2 separate regions of the Homo sapiens genome follow, and region 2 is linked to region 1. The links come from fine-mapping of genetic effects on gene expression. Tissue or cell type: aorta. Region 1 holds a variant in brackets; the other region holds the start of a gene. All regions are shown on one strand. Distances are between the middles of the regions. Region 1 overlaps LOC102724687 (a long non-coding RNA gene). Region 2 holds the start of ADHFE1 (alcohol dehydrogenase iron containing 1).

Region 1 (16,932 bases):
TTTGCCATGGATACAGGGATGGGGGAAAGTGCCAAACACTATGTATTTGGATCCCTGGCTCAGGTCAGTAGGATACCAACAGTTCACTACAGCAGATAACAAATAGAAATTTAAAAAGCCAAGAGCATTAAAGCATCTACCAGATGATGCACTTTGAATTCAAGATTTCTGGAGGAATGCAAGCGTAATTAGGGAAAAATAGAATCTTAAATAATGGTCAGCCACCAATACCATAGCAATTCAAATGATGTAACTGTCGCCTCATTGCACCATTGTATTCATTCAACCACTCATTTATCCATTTAACAAATGTTTTCTGAGAACCCACTAAATGTACCACATACTAATATAAACAAAATATAGCAGGTGTTACAGCACAGTGTTTAAGCATGGGCTCTGAATATCTTAGCTTCAAATCCTGACTCTACCACTTACAAACAAGTTTTCTAAAGTTACTTATAACAGTGTCTAGCACATCAAAAGCCCTCAACAAATGTCAGTGGTTACTATTATGATCATCATCATGATCATCTGGTAGTGGTAATAAAAGGAAGCTAGTGATCTAAGAAAGGAATACAGTATAGGAGTCTTCATGGGAGAACTAGTTACATATTCTGATAGAACAATGCACTCTTTTTGTAACATTTATTTTACTCTAATTATTCAGTATTTGTCTTCCCTGCTAGCTTGTAAATTCACAGGGGCAAACAACATGTCTGCTTTATTCTCTACTATATCCCTGACCCATAATAGATGCTCAGCAAATATTTCTTGACTGATTATGCTAGTGAATTAGTATACAAGAACCATAAAGAGGCTGACACCACTCACCGGTCAGCTCACTCTCCCCTCTCCGAGGGTGTTACCCCGCTTAATAAACCTTTTGCTGTTTTGCTTTAAAAAAAAAAAAATACGTAAAGAGAAGTGCAGCACAAACAGAGTGAGACCACTCAGGGGCCGTAATCATTCAGCCCTTGCATGAGGGCAGGTTTGGGATTGTCAGAGTCATTCGAACCAGAGCGACTCCATTTTGAGTGAGGGCTAGGAAAATGAGGCTGGGACTTGCTGGGCTGCATTCCCAGAAAATTACGCATTCCTAGCCCCTAGATGTTTATGGTTAAGGGAACAAATTAATAATGTTTACTATAACAAACTCAGATTTGGGAGCGTCCAGATATCCCAATATCTGGAGAACAAAGGCATTCCTAATTTTGCTTTAAAGATAATATTATCAATTCTTGCAAAATATAGTAATGAAGAAAATTAATCCTTTATCACAAACCTTTGTAGCAGAACACCTCCCCCCATATATACAAGCATTGTACCTAGGGTGGATGCGTTCCTCCTCGTACTTTCAGGAACGTCCTACTCTGTCTATAGAGCACCTGTCCTTTCACCACTTTACTTTCTTAATAAACTTGCTTTTACTTCGCACTGAGGACTCGCCCTGAATTCTTTCTTGCACGAGATCCAAGAACCCTCTCTTGGGGTCTGGATCGGGACCCCTTTCCGGTAACAGGATGAAGAGTTTTAGTCACCAGAAGAAACACAGCCCACTTCATAATTTTTGAATTAAAGCAATCCTATTAAATGAACATAAGTTCAATAGGTATTTTAATGCCACACATAATCAATTATGCAAAAAGTTTTTCTGATTTTCCATGGATTTCAGTGAAGAGGGAATTCTAATATAGATGTTATAATAAAACACAATGAGCCCCTTCTCTTCTCTTCTATAAAGGCAAAGATATATTTTCCAATTCATTTTTGCTGCAACTTCCCAAAGCAGACTCAAAGCTTGCCAAACTCAAATATTGTTAGAACTCGAACAATTCCAAAGCTGACAGGAAGGCCAGTTTTTAATCACCTCTGGGATGTTCACTTTCAGTAAAGATATTTAGGGCTAAGAAAGAAAAAGCCCAAATATAGCTCTAAGATGTTGAGCTATCTACTTTTATAACTCCCTTGGTGATAGAATTGTTGTTGCTTTTCAAATCCTGCTGCAGTTTGACCCTTCCCAGTAGGAACTTGGTGATAAATAATGCCTTTAATTGCTTTTCCTCCTGCCCTCGCAGCTGGTAGGAGAAGTGATGTGTGTATCACAAAGAAATGCTGAACCAAATTTTAAGGACAGAAAGGTAGGGATGTAGCTGTTGGGCTCTGCCTTCTTCCTGCATGGTGGGGGAGCCTCCAAACCTCTCTTTGTTAAGGACAGCAGCTCAGCCCAGGTGCCACTGAGTGGTCTTGTTCCCCATTGTCATTGCCGCTCCAGCTTATGACTGACAGAGAAGACTTCCTAGAGTCTCAGCCTTTGGTCCAGCTTTCCCCATCTGCCTCAAAGCCCTGGGGAACGTGAGTTAATGAACCAATGAACTGTGTTGCCTTCCTGGTATCCTTTGCTGATAGTTATTTGATGCAAGAGCTCAGGGACTCAAAATGCCTCTTTTAGGTCACAGGGAACCACGGCTTTTCTGATGCAGTCAATCAACTTGGAGTGTGCAGCAGGAGCTAAGGCTGTATGAATGGTGTCCTGCCTCAGTGCCTCTGCTGGAATCTGATCAAATAGGGAAGCATCGAGGAGGGGAGAGGGTGATGATGGGCAGTGAATGTGGCTTTGACTTACAAACTGACCTTCATATCATTTGAGATGATACAGTAATTTTCCCAAAAGACAAATTGAATTTATATCATTAGTTTCCCCCAACTAGTGAAATCCTTTCTGATAACTTTATTCTTTTGCTTTTAATACTGACTCCTTAGGAGAACTGGTATGGATGGGGAGGGAATAGAGGGATTGGGACAGCCTCAAGCAGTAGATTGCCTTGAACTTTAAAAAGACAAGGATCTAAAACTCCAAGGGACTCTTGCCAAGAGAACACATACAAGATGTGCAGAGACTTAATGATTGTAAAATGTATCCATGGGGTAATAGATGTCATTTGTCCCCTCTGACTCTTGCTTCCTCTTTGATGTAGTTTACTTAAGATTTCATAGAGGAAACTGAGAAACAAGGTTACATTATACACCCTACAGGATTCAACTTAGAATTACTCAACTTGGGGATAAAGAAAATGTGGTATATATACAAAATGGAATACTAGTCAGCCTTAAAAAAAAACTAGAAAGAAAATTCTGTCATTTGCAACAACATGGATGGACCTGTAAAGCATTATACTAAGTGAAACTAGCCAGATACGTGATCTCACTTATCTATTAATCTAAAAAAGTGGAACTCATAGAAGTAGAGAGTAGAATGGTGATTACCAGAGGCTTGGGGCTGAGGGGAGTGGAGGGATGGAATCGGGAGTTGTTGGGCAGAAGATATGAAGTTTCAAATAGACAGGAGGAATAAGTTTTGAGATATATTGCACAGCAGATAACTATAGGCATTAATATGTTTCAAAATAACTAAGAGAGTAAATGTCAAATGTCCCACAACAAAAAATAAGTGATGAGATAGATATGTTAATTAGCTTGATTTAATCATTTCATATTGTTTACATATATCGAAACATCACATTGTACCCCCATAAATGTACACAATTATGATTTGTCAATTTAAAATAATATTAATTTTAAAAATAGAAACTTTTTAAAATTATCTATTTGATATTTCAGTTTCCCCCAAGTCCCTCTTCCAGCTAACTACCCCTGGGGCATTTCTCTCTGATTCTGGCATCTTCCTCCACAATTATGAAAACAATTTCACTGCACTCCAGTTTCTACCATCAAGTTCGCATACCCCAATTCATCTCAGGTTCTGCTGAACCAATGGTCTTTCAGTTAACAGAACCTCCCCCCATGAAAAGTAATTGCTTACCATTTTTCATTACTTGCACAAGTGCTTCAGGTTAAAATAAAAGAAGCCATCTGGATATCACCCAGTTTCTGCTGTGTGTGGCTGGTGAGGAAAGTTGAGAGGCAGAATGGCGAGATGGAGAGAAGGTAAAGCCCTTCCCCCAAAAATGGGCCCAATAAACTAAATATTGTACTTATGTCTGAGTTGTCTCGGGAATTTTAGTTTTAAGTTTTCTAAAGACCAATCCCCTTAGGAAAATTGAGAAAACAAAATATACTATTTCTATGACAATAGAGAGATGTCTAAATCTATATGTTGACTTCACTAAGTGCATCTTTGTGTAATGGTCCAAAGTCTCATTTTACTAGATGAACAGTAATTTAAATGTTTAAAAATGAAAGTATCCTGTTTCAAAATGTTGAATTTGCATGAGCTACTGGCTCCCTACCACAAAATCAACTCTGAAGGAAAAAAAAAAAGGAAACTTAGATTTACAAAAGAGTGACTATTCTTTTCTTGCATACTTAGAATATTAACAAAAATTGAACATGTGCCAGGCTATTAAAATAACAATACATTTCAAATAATTAATACCTTACAGACTTGGCTCTCTGACCATAATCCAATAAACTGTTAAATCGTAACAGAAGAATAACTTTTTCAAAAAAACTCACATGATTAAAAAGTAATGTATTACCAAATAAGTCTTTGGTTAAAGCAGAAATAAATATTTAGAACTGAATGATAACGATACTACAAGACAAAATTTTGAGGTATGCAGCTAAAGCTGTACTTAGGGAAAAGTTATAGCTTTAAATATATTTACCGGGTAACAAATATCTAAAATAGGTGAGTTAAGGATTTAACTCAAAAAGTTGCGAGTTACAGAGCAAACCCAAAGTGACAAGAAAGAAGCAAATAATAAAGATAAAAGATTTTTAAAAACTAAAAATAGAAGACAAATAAAAAGTTAATTTTTGTAAGATTAATAAAATAGGGTCTTGGCAATACTAATCAAGAGAAAATGAAAATAAACAAAATGCATAAAGAAAGAAAATATCTAGACCCAACAGAGGATTACTTAAGCAGCTGTACATTGACAAAGTTGAAAATCTAGATAAAATGGAAAAATACCTAGAAAAATGTAAATGGCCAAACTTGGTACAGGAAGAAATAATGAACTTGAATATATGAATAAGTATAAAAGAAATTGAATCCGAAAAAATCCCAGTCCCAGATAGCTTTACAGCTAAGTTCCAACAAACTGTCTTATAAAAACTGTCTTGTAGGCTGGACACAGTGGCTCACGCCTGTAATCCCAGGACTTTGGGAGGCCAAGGTGGGCAGATTACTTGAGGTCAGGAGTTCGAGATCAGCCTGGCCAACATGATGAAACCCCGTCTCTACTAAAAAATACAAAAAATTAGCCAGGTGTGATGGTGAGCACCTGTAATCCCAGCTACTTGGGAGGCTGAGGCAGGAGAATCGCTTGAATGCAGGAGGCCAAAGTAGCAGTGAGCCAAGATCGTGCCATTGCACTCCAGCCTGGGCAATGGAGTGAGACTCTGACTCAAAAAAAACAAAAAACAGACAAACAAAAAACCTATCTTCTACAAGTTGGTACAGAAAATAGAAAATGAGTAAAAGATGCCCAGCTCATTTTATAGTGCTAGTGTAATCTTTTACTCAAAACTAGATAAGAAAAATGGAAAAAAGAGAAATTATAGGCCAGTTTCATTTATAAACATAGTTGCAAATATCCTAAATATTAGCTAACTGAACTCGACAGTGTATTTTTTAAATGCATAATAATCAAGTAAATCATATCTTAGTTGATGGACTTCATGATATGCTACCTGAAAATACGACAGCTTGGCATACTGAATATTTCAGCTGAAAAAGTTTGAGAGAAAGCATATGCAGGGCCCGGCACGGTGGCTCAAGCCTGTAATCCCAGCACTTTGGGAGGCCGAGACAGGCGGATCATGAGGTCAGGAGATGGAGACCATCCTGGCTAACACGGTGAAACCCCCGTCTCCACTAAAAATACAAAAAAATAGCTGGGCGTGGTGGCAGACGCCTGTAGTCCCAGCTACTCGGGAGGCTGAGGCAGGAGAATGGCGTGAACCCAGGAGGCGGAGCTTGCAGTGAGCCGAGATCACGCCACTGCACTCCAGCCTGGGCGACAGAGCGAGACTCCATCTCAAAAAAAAAAGAAAGAAAGAAAGAAAGAAAGATAGCATATGCAGTAAGTTCTCTCTGACCTTCCCCTGACCTTCTTTCCTGAAGCAGGTCATAAGACCCTCATGTGAGAGGTGTCTTTTCTGTTCCTGGAGGAAAGGAACATCCTATCTCTGAAGACACAGAGTCACAGAGAAGAATCTGAACAGGCCTTACTAAGTTTCCCCCAGTTTATTACCATTAAATTAGATCATACTCTTTTAGCTCTATCCTATTTCTCCATGACTCTCCACTCTCATCAAATCTAGCATTAAAATGCATCGGTTCACCTGTTTCTGCATCCTCATTTCCTTTTGAAGTTTCCCGTGTCACATAAAACTTACACTAAATAAATTTGTAAGCTTTTCATGTATTAATCTGTCTTTTGTTATAGGGACCTCTGCCATAAACCTAGGATGAATAAAGAAAAAGACATTTTTCCTCCCCTATGCAGGGATGCAAAGGAATCTATCTGTGTAATTATTCATCACATTACAGATTAGGGAGGAAAAAGGCATATGATCAACTAAATCAACTTTTAAAGCATTTGAGAGTATGTATTCAAAAAACTTAAACTCAGAGTCTTGAAAATATATTTGTCCACCCATGTTCATAGCAGCATTGTTTACATTAACCAAGAGGTAGAAGTAACTCAAGTATCCATCAATGGTTGAATGGATAAACAAAATGTGGTATTTATTATACAATGGAATATTATTTGGCCTCAGAAAGGAAGGAAATTCGGACACATGCTACAACATGGATAAACTTTGAGGACATTCTGTTCAGTGAAATAAGCTAGTCACAAAAAGACAAACATTGTACGATTCCACTTATATAAGGTATCAAGACAAGTTAACTTTGTTGAGACAGGAAGTAGAATGGTGGTTGCCAGGGGCTGGAGGCAGTGTGGAATGAAGAGGTATTGTGTAAAGAGTAAAGACTTTCCCTTTTGCAAGATGAAAAAGTTCTATAGATTGGCTGCAAAACAATGTGAATATACTTAACACTACTCAAGTATATACTTAAAAATGGTTAAAATAGGAAATCTTGTGTTCAATGTATTTTACCACAATTAGCTAAATAAATACATACATGTATATGTATTTATACATGTATACAACATGTATATATTTCCTCTCCGCTAAAAAATAATAAGCTACAGAGATAGCATTGCAGGTTATTAGGGGAAATAATAGATTTTTTTGCATAGACTTTATTTTTTAGAGTTTTAGGTTCACAGCAAAATTGAGTAGGAAGTACAGAGATTTCCCATACACTACCTATCCTGGCACATGCACAACCTCTCCCCCATCAATATCCCACACTAGAGTGGTATATTTGTTATTATCAATGAACATACATTAACCTTATCACCCCAAATCCATTAGGGTTTTACATTAGGGTTCACTCTTGGTGTTGTACATTCTATGCATTTTCACGAATGTATAATGACATGTATTCACCATTATAGTGTCATACAAAGTAGTTTCACTGCCCTAAAAATCCTTGTCAGCATTTGTTGTTGTCAAGGCATAGATTTTTAGGACACAGAAATCACTAACTGTTAAAGAAAATATTGAAAAATTGTGCTTCAGGCCAGTCTCAGTGGCTCACACCTCTAATCCCAGTACTTTGGGAGGCCCAGGCAGGCGGATCACCTGAAGTCAGGAGTTTGAGACCAGCCTGCCTAACATGGTGAAACCCCATCTCTACTAAAAATACAAAAATTAGCCAGGCGTGGTAGCACCCACCTGTAATCCCAGCTACTCAAGAGGCTGAGGCAGGAGAATTGCTTGAATCCGGGAGGTGAAGGTTGCAGTGAGCTGAGATTGCGCCATTGCACTCCAGCCTGAGCAACAGAGCAAGACTCTGTCTCAAAAAAAAAAAAAAAGAAAGAAAGAAAAAGAAAAGTTGTGTTTCATAAAATTTAGAAATTCTGCTCATTAAAAGATATAAAAAATGAAAATGTGGCCGGGTGCAGTGGCTGACATCTGTAATCCCAGCACTTTGGGAGGCCAAGGCGGATGGATCACCTGAGGTCAGGAGTTCAAGACCAGCCTGGCCAACATGGTGAAACCGCATCTCTACTAAAAATACAAAAATTAGCTGGGCTTGGTGGTGGGCACCTGTAATCCCAGCTACTTGGGAGGCTGAGGCAGGAGAATTGCTTGAACCCAGAAGGCGGAGGTTGCAGTGAGCCAAGATCCTGCCACTGCACTCCAGCCTCGGTGAGACTGTCTCAAAAAAAAAGAAAAAAAAAGGAAACATCTATAACACATATATCCAACAAAGGACTAATGTCCAGAATATCTAAAGAACTCATGAGTTAATAACAAAACAACCAAAAACTACATAACAGCAAAAGATTTGAATTGACACTTCATGGAGCTATATATACAAATGGCCAATAAGACATGGAAATGTTCTCAATCTCTTTAATCATTATAACAATATAAATTGAAACCACAATGAGTTACCATTTCATGCACTAGGATGGCTAAAATTAAATGACAACAGCAAATGCTGACAGACACAGAACAATTGAAGTATCATATATTGCTAGTAGAATTGTAAAATGATGCATTTTGCTAAACTGTCAGTTTCTTATACAGTTAAATATACACCTACCCTATGACTCAGCAATTTCATTCTTAGGTTTTACCCAAGACAATTAAAACATATGTCCACCAAAAAACTACTACAAGAATATTTATTGCAATGTTATGCCCATCAACAGAAGAGTTCATAAGCAAGTTGTAGTTTAGTCACATAATAGAACGTTACTCAGCAGTGAAAAGGAATAAACTATTGATGCACACAGCAACAGAGTGAATCTCAAAAATATGTTGAGCAAAAGAAGCCAGACACACTGAAATACATACTGAACAATTCCATGTATGTGAAGTTCAAAGACAGGCAATTAATCTATGGTGATGGAATTACAATATTTTTGTGTATGGGGGTTAAGAGTTGACTGCCTGGTGCATGAAGGAACTTTCTGGAGCGATGGAAATGTTCTGTATCATTTTTCTTTCTTTTCTTTTCTTTTTTGGAGACATGGTTTCTCCGTGTTACCCAGGCTGGTCTCAAACTCCTGAGCTCAAGCGATCCTCCCACCTTGGCCTCCCCAATGTGCTGGGATTACAGGCATGAGCCACTGTGCCCAGCCCAGTGGTCTGTATCTTAATTGAGATGGTATTATATGAGCATATGCATTTGTCTAAACTCATTTAATTGTGCACTTAAGATCTGTACATATCACTGCTTGTAAAATCACCTCAATAAAAAATATTGGGGTGATATCATTAAGAGGAGGAAGAGATATTGTCGAGTAAAAGCTGTAAAAGTTCACTGTGGGGAAAAAAAACGCAGTGATCAAGAGAATCAAAGTAGGTACAAAAATCACACATCTCACTGATGAAAACAATGTTCATTGAGCTTGACTGAAATGAAGCTTTTCCATTTTATTTAGCTGCAGAAAATATTTTCTGAATCCTATAGGATGAATCTTGACCAAAATTGATTTTTTGAAACAAACTGGTCTTTAGTGATTTTATTTTCTTTTTTGTGTATGTATATGATGGTTAAATAACCAAAATGAATATAATAATCATTTCTAAATAATCAAAAATAAACCTGAAAATAACTTTATGTTAGTCTGGTTGTTGTTTATGAATAATTAACATGATTGTTTTAAATAAATTTTGACTTAAAATTCACCCAGCAGCCTTATTACAACCTCCTACAGGTATCCTGACATAGCTGCAGCATTGTCTTGGGAAAGGTACAATGTTCTGTTCATTTATTTTAAGACCATTTTTCATTCAGGTAATTACAGGAAAGATTCAGCAAGCATGAGACAAAGCACTATTAAAAAGCTGTGAATTCCTGGGTCTCTAAGCCTAAGTGTTGTTTCTATTTTACATTCTAATAACTTGTCTTTTTCTATTCCCTCTTTATTAAATTCTGTATTCACCTTTTTAGAACTCATCTGACATATATTACAATCAGATTTGCCAATGTGCTAAGTCAAACAGTACAAGGTTTGTCATCAAAGTCTCCCAATCCTGTCTTCAGTCATTGGTAAATCTAATACATTCTATTTGTTTGTTTGTTTGTTTGTTTGTTGTTTTCCTGAACCTGATAGTAACTGAACAAATTCCTTACTTTAGCTGAAATGGCCCATGCTTACTCTTGGACAAAAGGAGTAAAACATTATGTTCCAGCATAAGTAAAACCCTTAACTCATATCTCCTTTTGTAAAAAAAAAAAAAAAAAAAAAACTGTAAGGACTAATTTCACTTGCTGGTATTCAAAAATGAGTAGCATCAATTTTCCATATTCAATACAATTTGTGTCAAATTTTAAAAACCAAATATCTGTAACTCATTTCAAAACCCTCAAAGTTGGGGATTCTCTGCAAATCACTATTGTATTGGATAGGAAAAAACTTTACTTCCCAGTTTAGGTCAATTGAATGTGAGTTGCAGAAGGGCCAGGGCAGTATCTTCTCAGTTCATCATTGGTAGCATCATGCCTGGCACATAGAGATGTCTGTTAATACGTAATAAATGAACAAAGTAGCAGCCATTCTCAACCAAAGGGAACACCATGAGACATTGCAGTGTCATGATCTATTGAGAGATATGTTGAAAGTAATTAGACCTAATGATAAAGAAACCTTTTTGCCCTAATAACTGAATTGTTTTAAAACTTTGAATCTTGACAATTTTTAGATTAATGGAAGAGTTGCAAAGATAACACAGACAGTTCCTATGTACCCTTCATCCCATTTCCCCTAATGCTAACATGCTACATAACCATGGTGCATTTATAAAACTGATAAATTAACATTAACAATACTATAAACTATAGAATTATTCAGATTTTACTGGTTTTTCCACTGATGTCCTTTTCCTGTTCCAGGATTCGATTCAGGATACCATGTTGCATTAAGTCATCCTGTCTCCTTATAAACTCAACTCTGACAATTTGCCAGCCTTTCCTCATTTGCTTTTCATGATATTGGCTCCATTTGGATTTGTCTGGTGCTTTCTCATTATTAGACTGAGCTTATAGATTTGGAGGAATAATACCATATACCACAGAGGTGAGGTGCCCTTCTCATCACATCATATAAGGGATACATCATGTCAATACAACTTATTACGGGTGATGTTAACATTGATCGTTCAGTTAAGGTAGTATCTGCCGGTTTCTGTGCTGTAAAGGTATTTTTTCCTTTCCATACTCTAGTCCTTAGAAGCAAGTTTCTAAGTCAAACTCATAATAAAGGAGACAGAAATTAAACTTCACCTCCTGGTAGAAGAATTTGGGAGTGTATGTCAAAACCCACCATTAATAGTAATTAATAAATGTATTTGGGAAATTCCTTTCCAGCTATGCAAATACCCTGCTTCTCCTTAAAGTCTCACCTACTAAGAGTAGTATTCATCAACGGATTTTGCCTATAGTAACTATTGTGGTACCAAGAACACTTTTTCATTTATTTATTTTATATAAATGGTACAACAATTGAAAGTTACTTCTATAATATCACTGTCGCTCCAACAAATAGTGTCCGTTGCCTACCTGTTTTCTGACTGCAAACAGATCTTTAGCTTCAGAAGAGCTAATCCCCTCTGCCATTTCCTTTGCAATGTTTGGTTTAGGACTTGTCCTGTGACAGAATTCAGACTAATGAGACATGAGAGTAAGTCTTTTCAGGAGGTTCTAACAGATTCTTCTTCACTTTCAAAAAGAGTCACAAGGAAGGGATGTTCTGTCTTCTAAGCTTGAGGCTTTGTAAGTGAGGATTTAGTCTAGCACTGCGGCAGCCACCTTGAGGCCATGAGGGAACAAATCTGAAAATAAAAGCAAACACACTGCTGAAGATGGCAGAGTTGAAGGATGCAAACAACCCGGTCTTGATGCTGTGGATTTGCTAAATTAACCAACTCTGAATCACTCTAAATCCTGATTTCACTTTGTGACATAATCAAGCCCCTTATTATTTGACTGATT[T/G]TGAGTGTGGCTTGCAGCTGAAAGCTCCCTAATTGATGCACTCACTTCATTGTGAGAGCCTTTCTTGAGAAGTGGAGAAAGGGACAGATTTATAGCCCTTAGTCATGAATTGTACACAACCCTGGATAGGCACATTGGTCTTTGTTCTGGATACACACTTGACTGGGGCTTGTGTCACTATATCAGGGGAGGGAAAGATTGAGAAAAGTAGCTGTATGAAAACATACATGCTTCCAGTGTGAACTTCTAAGAGTTGGCTTCATAAAGATACGTTCAAAATAATTCTTTCTGGAATTTTTGGCAAGCAGGTAGTTTCATTATCCTCTGTTTCTCTTTCTTTTTGTTAAATTTTCTTTCAAAATATTTTTCAAAATTTTCAAAAATTAGTATATAAAGCTCAGAATAGAACTAGAATTATGCTAGGTAATTAAAGACACAAGATGTAATATGTGACCTTTTTTTTTTAATCTATGTGTTTAAAAATTCTTGTGAATCTGTTATCATAAGTTAATTGAAGTCCTTCATACTATCTTTTTTAATTTTTTTTTTTTTTTTTTTTTTTTGAGATGGAGTCTCACTCTGTTGCCAGGCTGGAGTACAGTGGTGCAATCTTGGCTCACTGCAACCTCCACCTCCAGAGTTCAAGTGATTCTCCAGCCTCAGCCTCCTGAGTAGCTGGGACTACAGGTGCGTGCCACCACGCCCAGCTAATTTTTGTATTTTCAGTAAAGACGGGGTTTCACCATGTTGGCCAGGATGGTCTCGATCTCTTGACCCTGTGACCCGCCCGACTCGGCCTCCCAAAGTGCTGGGATTACAGGTGTGAGCCATGACACCCAGCCTTTAATTTTTTTTTTAAACCCAACACTATTAGCGGTGTTAGGAACCTCATACTATGTTAACTCACTGGGTGATCTCATCTACTCCTTGTTTAAATAATTATAGGCACTACTTAATTCTCTTTTGAAAGAAGTCAAATTACAATTGCTACCCTCGTTTAAAGGGTTATCTTTAAAACCTTATTACATTATGTAAATGTACTCAATGCTCACCGCTAGTCAGTTCATACGACAGCTTTTCCATTCCTAATTTTTTAAGTGCAATGTATTATTTAATCGTCTATATCTCATCATCAAATGTATTTTTCCAAGCAGGGCTCATTAATATGCTGAGATTATACATATTAGAAATGTCTTTCTGTTATACTTATTTTGGGAGGATAACTTGACTAGGTATAAAATTCTTACCTTTGAATTCTTTATAAAAATAATTTCATTCTTTTCTCGCATTTAATGTTGCTGTGAAAAAATCTGAGGCCAGATTGACATTTTCTCCATTGTAGTTCTTTCTTAGTTTCACTGGCTATTGGAGACTTTTCTTGATCTTGAAATTTAACAACTTCATCAAGATATGCTGTCTTAATCATTACATATTCCTTTTTATGTCGATCAGATGCTTTCTAAATTTCAGGAAATGTTTCTTCTACTGTGTATTTTAATATTTTTCTTTCTTTACTTGTTTTATTTATTTACTGAAATAAATTATGCTATGCTTCTATTGAATCATTTTTCTGTCTTCCATAGCTATCATCATCTGTCTAATTAATGACATTTCTTTGGTGGTTTTTGTTTTATTTTGTTTTGTTAGATTTTCTTAGGACTGTTCCATAAATCCTTGACAATTTTTTTTTCCATCAGTATCCTATTTCTTGCTGCTTCCAAGGTAATTTTAATTTTTGCAGTGGATTCTTTAAAAAAATTCTTTGCAGAGTTCTGTCAGTTCATTTGTTATGTGTTTGAGTAATTATCACTTCCTTGAGCTCCTTTTTTTTTTTTTAACAGTCCATTTTCCCATTAATTTCTCTGAAAGCATGGAGAAGGTGTTTGCCTGAAATCTTCTCTTTACTGGGATAATTTAGCTGAAGTATAATCTGTATTGACCTTTTCTGTGTTTTATTACTTTCTTCTCTTTTATGGTGGCTGTGAATAGATCTTATGCTGAATCCTTTCTGATTATTATTCAATATTGAATCAGTATAATTCTCATCAGCAATGATCTTTAATAAAATAGTATAAGAATGAGTAATCTTGGGCAGTTGGCGAATTTAATTTTCGTACATTTTGTCTGAACACTTTCCAATCAGTTATCCTGGGAAGGAGATCCTTTCAAGTTTGAGGCTTGTTCCTTCAGTGCGGACACCCTGCTCTGGAGCAAGGTTGATGAAGCCTAGCTGCTCATCCGCCCAACGATCCGTGACTGGGCTACTTGGTGGACTATGGCCAGAGCCGTGAAGCTGACTGCTGCTCCCCCTGCCTCTCTCCACGTAGTTTCCCCAGGTTAGGAAACATAAAGAGCAATGTATTCACTTTCCAGAATTTTCCTCCGTTGGTTAGAGGTTTCACTCTGTTTAACAGAAATACTTCATAACCTGTTTGGCATTCTTTCCTAGTTTCATTATAGATGATATTTTCATAATATTTTCTATTCTTTATGATAGATTACTTCAAGAAGACAAGGGGAGTAAACATTACTCAATTCCACCATTTTTAACTGGGACTCCTCCCATCATTTGTTATGTGTCTGTTTCTCTCACTACAGTGGGTGCCCTTTGAGGGCAGGAACTATGTCTAAAATGTATATACCCCACGTCTGATATAGAAGAGGTACTCAGTAAATATTCATTGAAGGAATGAATTTCACTGAGACACTGAATGATATTGTTTTATGTACTAACAGCTGTCCTGCTTATCTAGAAGAGTATGTTATAGAAGAGCAAACACTGCAGGTAGTGGAAGATGAGGGGGTCAGCAGGTGTATCAGTTTTGTTTGGTGTACATCCAACAAAGGGAAGCCTAAGCCCTTTGTTCCTCTCTGTATTCAGCAATCCTCACTATTCACAGATTCCATATTTGCAAATTCGCCTACTCACTAAAATTACTTGTAACTCCGAAATAAATATTCCAAGCACTTTCATGGTCATTCATGAACATGTGCAGAGCAGCAAAACTTTGAGTCCCCTAACATATATGTTCCCAGTTGAGGCAAACAAAGCAATCTCTGCCTTCTTGTTTCAGCTGTCATACTACAAACAAGTGTCCTTTTAGTGCTCTATTTAGTGCCATAATTTTTAACCGTTAGGCTTTTCTTTTTTTATTGATTTAACCATTTAAAATGGCCTCCAAGAAAACTGCAGAAGTGCTGTGTAGTGTTCCTAAGTGCAAGGGGGTTGTGATGCACCCTACGGGGAAAATACATGTGTCAAAGAAGCGTTGTTCATGCATGAGACATAGTACTGTTGCCATGAGGGCAATATTAACGAGTCAACACTATACATTACAAAAGATGTCTTTAAACAGAAACACACATAAAACAAGGTTTTTTATAGATTGCTTAATGAAAATTGTGAACAGTGGCTCACAGGAACCTAACAGTATTTCCTGTAAGAGCAATAGTTCAGTATTTCCTAATTCAGTGTTTGCAGCAGCTTTATAGAATATAAGTACCACAGAGAGCAAGAATCAACCATCTTATATCATATATATGGGAAAACTCCAAAATTTATACCTTGAGTTTTAAAAATGCCCTGAAGAGCAGGCACACTTATGCAATTGCCTTTTGATATATTACTTAGATATGTAATAAGCGTCTCAAACTTAACAGGCTTGAAACAGAATTTTGATTTTTTTTTCCTTCCCACAAACCTCTTTTCTCCCAGTCTTCCCCAAATCTTTAAATGTCAATCCTTTCCACCTGGTTGCTCAAACCAAAACAATGAATCATCCTCAATTCTTCTCTTCCCCTCACCTTTCATATTCATTCCAACAGCAAATCCTGACAGGTTTACTTCTCTCCCAAGTCCATGTACTATCTCTGTCTCCATAACTACCATCTCAGTTCAAGGCACCATCATTCCTTCACCAGAATCCTGTGAGAACTGCCTACCTGTCTAACTGCTTCCACTCTAACTCTCTGTAATTCACTCTTCATGCAGGAGCAAAAGTGATGCTGTTAAAATGGGGATCAGACCATGTTACTCCTCTGCTTAAAATTCTCCAGTTGGCCAGGTGCAGTGGTTCACACCTATAATCCCAGTGTTTTGGGAGGCCAAGGTGAGAGGGTAGCTTGAGCCCAGGAGTTTGAGGCCAGCCTGGGCAACACAGTGAGACTCCTGTCTCTCCCAAAATATTTAAAAATTAGCTTTGTATGGTGGTATGCATCTGCAGTCCCTATCAAGAGGCTGAGGCAGGAGGATCGCTTGAGCCCAGGAGTTCAGGCTCCAGTGAGCCATGACCTCACCACTGCACTCCAGCCTAGGCGATAAAATGAGACCCCATCTCTAAAAAAAAAAATTAATCAATTAAAAATCTCCCCCAGTGGCTTCTTGTTGCATTTAGGATAAATCCAAACTTTTCACTTTGGCTCATAAGGCTCTAAACAATCCAGTCCCTACCAATATCTCCAAGCACATCCCCTGCCACCCTCCCCTTCCTTACAGTTTCCAGCAAAACTGGCTTCCTTTCTGTTGCTTCAACACCTCAGGGTAGAGTTGTCAGATTTGGCAAATAAAAATACAGGATGATGAGTTAAATCTGAATTTCAGATTAAAAGGAATACTTTTTTAGTGTAAGTATAAACTATAAAATATTTGGGACATGCTTATATTAAAAAAGGAGTACTCATTGTTAATACGAAATCCACATTTAACTGGGCATCCTGTATTTTACCAGGCAAGTCTCATCCCTGCCTTATCCCTTTGCACTTGCTGCTATCCCTTTTTCCGGGGCTCTCTGCTCCCAAATCATTGTCATTTAACTGAGCTTTCTTCGTCATCCAAATCACAGAGCAAATATCGCCTCCTCAGAAAAGCATTCTCTACTCACCCAATC
Region 2 (8,000 bases), 74 kb after region 1:
GGCAGTCCCAGGAATTTGTACCCGCCCCGGTCCCGGACCGCGCCCCTGGACAAACCCTCCGGCCCGCCCCTCCGGATTGAGCCCCAAGACTGTCCCCGGACCACCATCCTAAGACCACTCCCTGAACTGCCCCCCCCAAGACCGCCCCCTAGATCGCCCCCCGGGACCGCCCTCTCTAGACCGCCTGCGAGACTGTCCCCGGACCGCCCCCTGGACCACCCCCTAGGCGGCCCCCCGAGCTGTCCCTGGACCGCCCTCTAGACCGCCTCCCGCCCCCTGCATCCTGGGAATCGTAGTCCCAATCCTGCTCTGGAACTAGCAGTGCGGCCTGCTCGGGCCAGCTCCGCCTCTATCTGGCGCCAGCCTAAAGGTCCCGCTTCTAATCCCATCATCTCTCCATACCGCCCTCTGCCGGCCTTTCCTCTGGTCGCCCGGATTGCGAGCCGCTTCCGGACGCTCCGGAAGCGAACCTTTCTTTTCCGGATTGGGCATCCCGGCATCTGCACGTGGTTATGCTGCCGGAGTTTGGGCCGCCACTGTAGGAAAAGTAACTTCAGCTGCAGCCCCAAAGCGAGTGAGCCGAGCCGGAGCCATGGAGGGCCAGAGCGTGGAGGAGCTGCTCGCAAAGGCAGAGCAGGACGAGGCAGAGAAGTTGCAACGCATCACGGTGCACAAGGAGCTGGAGCTGCAGTTTGACCTGGGCAACCTGCTGGCGTCGGACCGGAACCCCCCGACCGGGCTGCGGTGCGCCGGACCCACGCCGGAGGCCGAGCTACAGGCCCTGGCGCGGGACAACACGCAACTGCTCATCAACCAGCTGTGGCAGCTGCCCACGGAGCGCGTGGAAGAGGCGATAGTGGCGCGGCTGCCGGAGCCCACCACACGCCTGCCGCGAGAGAAGCCTCTGCCCCGACCGCGGCCACTTACACGCTGGCAGCAGTTCGCGCGCCTCAAGGGCATCCGTCCCAAGAAGAAGACCAACCTGGTGTGGGACGAGGTGAGTGGCCAGTGGCGGCGGCGCTGGGGCTACCAGCGCGCCCGGGACGACACCAAAGAATGGCTGATTGAGGTGCCCGGCAATGCCGACCCCTTGGAGGACCAGTTCGCCAAGCGGATTCAGGCCAAGAAGGAAAGGGTGGCCAAGAACGAGCTGAACCGGCTGCGTAACCTGGCCCGCGCGCACAAGATGCAGCTGCCCAGCGCGGCCGGCTTGCACCCTACCGGACACCAGAGTAAGGAGGAGCTGGGCCGCGCCATGCAAGTGGCCAAGGTCTCCACCGCCTCTGTGGGGCGCTTTCAGGAGCGCCTCCCCAAGGAGAAGGTGCCCCGGGGCTCCGGCAAGAAAAGGAAGTTTCAACCCCTTTTCGGGGACTTTGCAGCCGAGAAAAAGAACCAGTTGGAGCTGCTTCGTGTCATGAACAGCAAGAAGCCTCAGCTGGATGTGACTAGGGCCACCAATAAGCAGATGAGGGAGGAGGACCAGGAGGAGGCCGCCAAGAGGAGGAAAATGAGCCAGAAGGGCAAGAGAAAGGGAGGCCGGCAGGGGCCTGGGGGCAAGAGGAAAGGGGGCCCGCCCAGCCAGGGAGGGAAGAGGAAAGGGGGCTTGGGAGGCAAGATGAATTCTGGGCCGCCTGGCTTGGGTGGCAAGAGAAAAGGAGGACAGCGCCCAGGAGGAAAGAGGAGGAAGTAATAGTTTCTAACTGTCGGACCCGTCTGTAAACCAAGGACTATGAATACTAAATGTTAAGTTCTAGGCAATTATACGGGGACTCAGAAGGACCTGGCCGCTGCCTTCATTGAGTTTAAAGGGACAGGATTGCCCTTCCGTCAAGAAAGTATGTAAGTGTTGGACTGCACAAATTAATGTTTTTCCCACAACCGAGACTTTGGAGATTAAGAACTTATTTGAGGATTTAAGAATTAGGGAAATAATTTGGTGGAAACCGGGAATGAGTTCTATTCTTAAACAGCCTTTTTTTTTCTTTTTAATGTTGGATATACGGCGAGGTAGAGTTGGCCATATTTCAGAGACTTAGATTGACGTATATGTTTCTGCATTATTTTTACAACAAGTTTGTGTATCAGAGCGGGAGTGCGGGGGAGGGAAAGAAAACAAACAGTTTCAGAATTGAATAGGCAAGTGACTGTTTTAAAGATTAAGTAATAAAGATGTCTTATCTAGTGTGACTTTTAACTTTCTGACTACTGGGTAGAAATTGTACTTGAAGCCGGTTACCTGGATACCTGGTACAGATTATTTTTGTTTACTTTCTGAAAAACACAAAGCAGGCCGTGCGCAGTGGCTCACTCCTGTAGAGTCCCAGTACTTTGGGAGGCCGGGGCGGGCGGATCACCTGAGGTCAGGAGTTCGCGACCAGCCTGGCCAACACAGTGAAACCCCATCTCTACTAAAAATAAAAAAATTAGCCAGACACGGTGGCTGGTACCTGTAGTCCCAGCTACTTGGGAGGCTGAGGCAGGAGTATCGTTTGAACCTGGGAGGCGGAGGTTGCAGTGAGCCCAGATCACGCCACTGCACTCCACTCCAGCCTGGGCAACAGAGGAAGGGGCCATCTCAAAAAAAAAAAGCAGTTCAATTATAATGGTTTCAGTGATACCACTTCTAAACTTATACTTCTTTTGGTATCAAATATAATATTCAAAGTAGTAAAACTGATGTCTGTTTTTTAAAAAGATTTTATGCCTTTCAACACTGAACACATGGATTTCCTGTAAATGATCAATTTGGGCTTCATTGACTAATGGTAATAATCCTCATTAATCCAGAAAACACTTAAATCTTTCTCTACGTTTATATCCCCAGTTGTTTGTGTGTGTGTGTTTGTTTTTAAGCTTGACGTCAGGTATAGTTTTGTTTGGGGGAAGAAAGAAACAGACCCATAAGATCCTTAATTAGGACATTATTATCTTTTTTTAAGTTCCGGAGTAGATGTGCAGGATGTGCATGTTTGTTACATAGGTAAACGTGTGCTGTGGTGGCTTGCTGCACCTATCAACCCATCACCTAAGTATTAAGTCCCTCTGCCCCCTTCTATCCCCTGCCCCCAGGCCCCAATGTGTGTTGTTCCCCTCCCTGTGTACATGTGTTCTCATAGAACATTATTTTTTGATTCATTTGTCAAGTTGGCCTGAGCTGGTTTGATTAGGAGGTGAAATGTTTATATAGCTGTCCTTGGTCTTCCTGTCCATCAATCTTTTCCAGTTTGATCGCAGTAAATTCATTTCTGTAAAACTTAATATCTCCCATAAAGGATTCAGATTTCATAATAACAGATTACTAAAAATGCAAATGTTTAGTTGTTACTGTCTTTGGATACTTTCTGATAAAGTTGAGCTTTATCGTTAATCAGCTTTTCCACTGGGACATGGCAGATATGGCACAGCCAAGCCCTCCCGGAGCATAGTCTAATCATGGCAAGTTTTAACTATTGATGTAAGAGTTTTAACTATTGATTTTGCTTTCATCAAAAGCAAAGCCATTCACACAGTATTTAACAAAAACCCTCGGGCTCTGCTAGGTTCTTGTTTACTGTTAAAACAGTTTAAAGGCAGGGTCTTGATCACTTAAAATACTCTTAGAAGGGAAAGTAACATTTTAAAGGATTAACAGTGGAAAAAGAATATCCCTGTTCCTCTTCCTTCCCCCAAGTCCTCAACATGTGAAAAATAGAGTTGATAAGTAAGGAGATTTAAGGCAGAACCCGAGGCCTACGGAGCAGTTACCTTCTACGGCAATTTCAAGGGTGGATGGTGCGAGCGCCGCTGGGGCAGCTGGCGTTCTGGTTCTTACTCCGTGGGAAAATGGCCCTGAGCCCGACTGGCTTGAGGCTTAGACAGGTGACCCCGCGAAGCGGGTGGGCAGGCGCGGCCGAGGGGCGGGAGGCGGGCAGCCTCCGTGATTGGCCGGCGGAGGGGGCGGTGTAGCGACCCGAGGAGGGAAGAGGACTCCAAGCGCCATGGCCGCTGCCGCCCGAGCCCGGGTCGCGTACTTGCTGAGGCAACTGCAACGCGCAGCGTGAGTGCGGGGCCGGCGGGCGGGCAGGGGACCGCAGGGTGCCCACGCAGCCCCCTGGGTGTGACCCGCTCAGATCCTGCGCAGTCTTCTCCGCTTACTTTCAAGAATTCGGAGAATTTGGATACCGCCCTGGGCTCCCACCGCGCGCCAGGCGGAACAGCGAGGTCACAGAGTGCGCGATGCAGCCTCTCAGGGCGCAGTGAGGCAGCCTTTACTCTGCTTGTCTACCGTTAAAGAAACTGAGGCCCAGAGAGGACCTGGTCCCACATCGTAGCAGGCAGTGGAGAGCTTGGCACGGTGGCCAAGACAAATTCATGTATGCAATTGACACATATTTATTGGGCATATATTATGTGCCAAAAACTATTCTAGGTTCTGGGGATACAAAGATGAAAGGCTCTGGAGCAGTTTGAGGTCTAGTGGGGAATGGGATGAGGGGACGAGGCTAAAACCGGCTATAGCAGACTGGGTGTAGAAGGGAAGGATGGATGTGAGAAGTCGCAGAGTCACACTTCCTGGCATGTACAGGGAGTCAGGGTATTCAATGTCATGACACGCCTGCCTCCCAGCAGAAATGTGAGGTACATCCTGGTCACCTGATAAATACTTGCTGACTGTGCAAGTGCACAAGTCTGCCTGGGAAACATGGAAAAGTTTGAGCTCACAGGTGCAGATCAGTAGGAGGAAAGGCGAGGGACTGGCGAGGAACGTCAGGCAGAGAGAAGAGCAACACCAGCGATGGAGATGCAGTCCCAGGACACAAAAGACAAGTAGACCTACCTTTATAAGAGGAGGTAAAGATGGAGAAGACGGCTGATAAAAGACCATGAATAAGAATATAGCTAATACGATGAGCCCGGCAGTGTCTTACACACTTTGAATGGACTATCAGTATAATAGTAACTCTAATCCTTTCACTGACCCTATGACACACGGTATTGTCATCCTCATAGATACGGAAATAAAGGCATGGAGAAGAATTTGTCCAGTGTCACACAGCTAAGCAAATGGCACAGTCATAATTTGAACCCAGATACTCTGGCTTCACAGTCCTTGTTCTTAGGCCTGTAGTAAGGAATTTGAATTGTGTGCTGTAGATAATGGAAAGCCATTGAATAATATTTGTCACCATTAAACACTGATACCTTAAAATGTCCCATGACAAAAGAATTACATGGCCAAATAAGTTTGAGAAGCTCCTTACTGCTGTATTGCCCTCTTGGAGAATCAAAATATACATTAGACATGCAGGGCTCCAAGAAGCTACAAAAAATACTAAAGCTGTGTTCAAATTTTTGGTTGTAAACCTGTGTCATCATAGAACTCTTTGTCACACAACACCATTTATATCCCATGGAATCAGTGTCACACACAGAATATGTTTTTGGAATGGTTGCATGAAAAGGGAGTATGGCATAATCAGAACTGTGTTAGCACATTCTGGTGGAAATGTGGAGTGAAGAGGAAGGACTAGAGGTCATTGTCCTGCTCCAGCCTGAAGATAATGGCTTCATGCACGGAGAGGCAGTTCCTTGGGTAGATAGAAATGCTGAGAGGTTGGTTAGAATCCACAGGATTTTGTATCTGAATAGTGAAGAGTTGAGATTTCTGGCTTGGGCATCAAGTAAACAGTGGGCTCATTTACCAAGGCAGGGATTGTAGGAGAGTTAGTGTTAGGAGGAAAATGGCAACTTCAGTCTAGGGCATTTTGAGTTGAGCATGCTTCTGGTACATTCAGATGGAGACCCCAGTAGGTGATTGAATGTATTGTTCTGGGGCTCAAGAGTGAGTTGGGAACACATCCATCCATGCGTATGGAGGACAGTTGAAGCCCTAACAAAACTCTAACCTAGAAGGAAACAGCTGAGGGTGAATTCCTGGGGAGCAGCACTGCCACAGCAGGAGTAGCAAGATGGTGCTTTCTTCTGCACATGCTTATTATTCTAATAGGGTAAACATTTTAAAAGTGGGAGATTTCCAATGAAAATCTTGGAAAATTGGAAAATGGCATCATTGGGCACATGTTTCATCTGGGCAAAGTGGGCTAGGGCACGGGGTGATGTGTGGCCATTTCTATTGGACAGAGCATGCACTCTGGGCTTCTGCCCAACACATTCCATAGAGCAACTGCGCTGACAACTGAATGGAGGGGAAAGAATCAGCACTGAAGGAGACAGAGGCAAGGCGTGCACTGGCCAGAGAGGTTGTGGGAAGGCCCTGGAGGGCAAGAGTCACATTCCGTCTCCAGATGTGCAGCCCTGCACAGGGTGGTGGGTGCCCATAGTCCCAGCTACTCAGGAGGCTGAGGCAGGAGAATCACTTGAATCTGGGAGGCATAGTTTGCAGTGAGCAGAGATCAGGCCACTTCACTCCAGCCTGGGCTACAGAGCAAGACTGTGTCTCAAAAAAAAAAAAAAGATGTGCAATGCAGCCCTGCTTTGACTGTGTTATCTCTGGGGTACAGCAGGGAACAAAACAACCTAACCACACCATGCATGGGGCACAGGGGATAGATGACAAACTAGTTAGTAAAATTGAGAGTACATTAGCTGTTGAAAGTTATTACAGAGAACATAAAGGAGGCTGGGATGTTGAAGGAAGGGATGCAATTTTTGAGGTGTTCAGAGCAGCCCTCACTATGTTAGTTTCCTACAGCTGTTGTAACAAACTACCATGAACCTGGTGGCTTAACACACATTTGTCTTAACAGTTCCAGAGGTCAAAAGTCTGAAATGAGTTTTACTAGGCTGAAGCCAAGGTGTGAGCAGGGCCACACTCCCTCTTGAGTAAGGCTCAGAGGTGCTGCAGAATCCACTTACTTGCTTTTTTCCAGCTTCTAGAGCTCTACCTTCGGTTCCTTAGCTTGTGGCCCCTTCCTCCATCTTCACAGCTGGCACTCATCTTGCTTCAGTGCTCACATTTCTGTCTTTTGGGTCAAATCTCCCTCTGCCTCCCTTTTATAAGGCTATGAGTGATTGCATTTAGGGCCCACACAGATCATCCAGAATAATCTCCTCATTTCAAGATTTTTTTTTTTTTTTTTTTTTTTTTTTTTGAGACAGAGTCTTGCTGTCACTTAGGCTGGAGTGCAGTGATGTGATCACGGCTCACTGCAATCTCGAATTTCTGGCCTCCTCAAAGATCCTCCCACCTTAGCGTCCCAAGTAGCTGGGACTACAGTGCACAACATCATGCGCAGCTGATTTTATTTTTTGTAGAGATGGAGTCTCACTATGTTGCCCCAGCTGTTCTTGAACTCCTGGCCCCAAGCAGTCTTCCCATCTTGGCCTCCCAAAGTGCTAGGATTATAGGTATGCGCCACAACACCTAGCAAGATTCTTTTTTTTTTTTTTTTTTTGAGATGGAGTCTCGCTCTGTCGCCCAGGCTGGAGTACAGTGGTGTGATCTCGGCTCACTGCAACCTCCACCTCCTGGGTTCGAGCGATTCTTCTGCCTCAGCCTGCTGAGTAGCTGGGATTACAGGCACACACCACCACACCTGGCTAATTTTTGTATTTTTAGTAGAGATGGGGTTTTGCCATGTTAGCCAGGCTGGTCTTGAACTCCTGACCTCAGGTGATCCACCAGCCTCAGCCTCCCCAAAGTGCTGGGATTACAGGTGTGAACCACTGTGCCCAGCCAGGATTCTTAATCATATCTGCAAAGTTCCTCTTACTATGTAGGGTAACATTCACAGATTCCCAGGATTAGAACCTTATCTTCAGGAGCGATTACTCAACTCAGTGATTACTCACTGAGAAGGTAATGGTTGCGGAAAGACCAGTGGATGCAGAGAGCAAACCCTGTGGCCTTCAGGGAAGGTATGCAGAGGTGAAGCATACCTGGGTATGGAACAGAGTGAATAAGGGGGAGATGGGAGTGTGGGGCCAAGGGTGACCCCAAGATTCTCCGGCACGAACAACTGGAAGGATGAAATTGCCATTAGATGGGGATGGGGAAGGCT

The links.
Region 2: ADHFE1 starts here. The variant in region 1 is fine-mapped to the expression of ADHFE1 in aorta (GTEx, PIP above 0.99).

What each region holds. Positions count from the first base shown.
Region 1 is chr8:66,350,226-66,367,157 of GRCh38, forward strand. The region is part of intron 1 of LOC102724687 (a long non-coding RNA gene); the gene reads right to left. Among named protein-coding and RNA genes, the nearest start is that of RRS1-DT, 70 kb to the right of the region's middle. The variant T/G (reference allele first, on the strand shown) is at 12,047.
Region 2 is chr8:66,428,540-66,436,539 of GRCh38, forward strand. It overlaps ADHFE1 (alcohol dehydrogenase iron containing 1), which reads left to right and starts at 3,965. Exons shown (of 14, transcript NM_144650.3): 1 at 3,965-4,036. The coding sequence starts at 3,978. It overlaps RRS1 (regulator of ribosome synthesis 1), which reads left to right and starts at 475. Exons shown (of 1, transcript NM_015169.4): 1 at 475-2,194. The coding sequence starts at 593. The coding sequence ends at 1,690. RRS1-DT (RRS1 divergent transcript) reads right to left here and starts at 438. Exons shown (of 3, transcript NR_040434.1): 1 at 403-438. It overlaps LOC102724687 (a long non-coding RNA gene), which reads right to left and starts at 3,827. Exons shown (of 5, transcript XR_929013.3): 1 at 3,745-3,827. RefSeq lists silencers at 124-213, 3,799-4,218 and enhancers at 354-723, 1,993-2,042.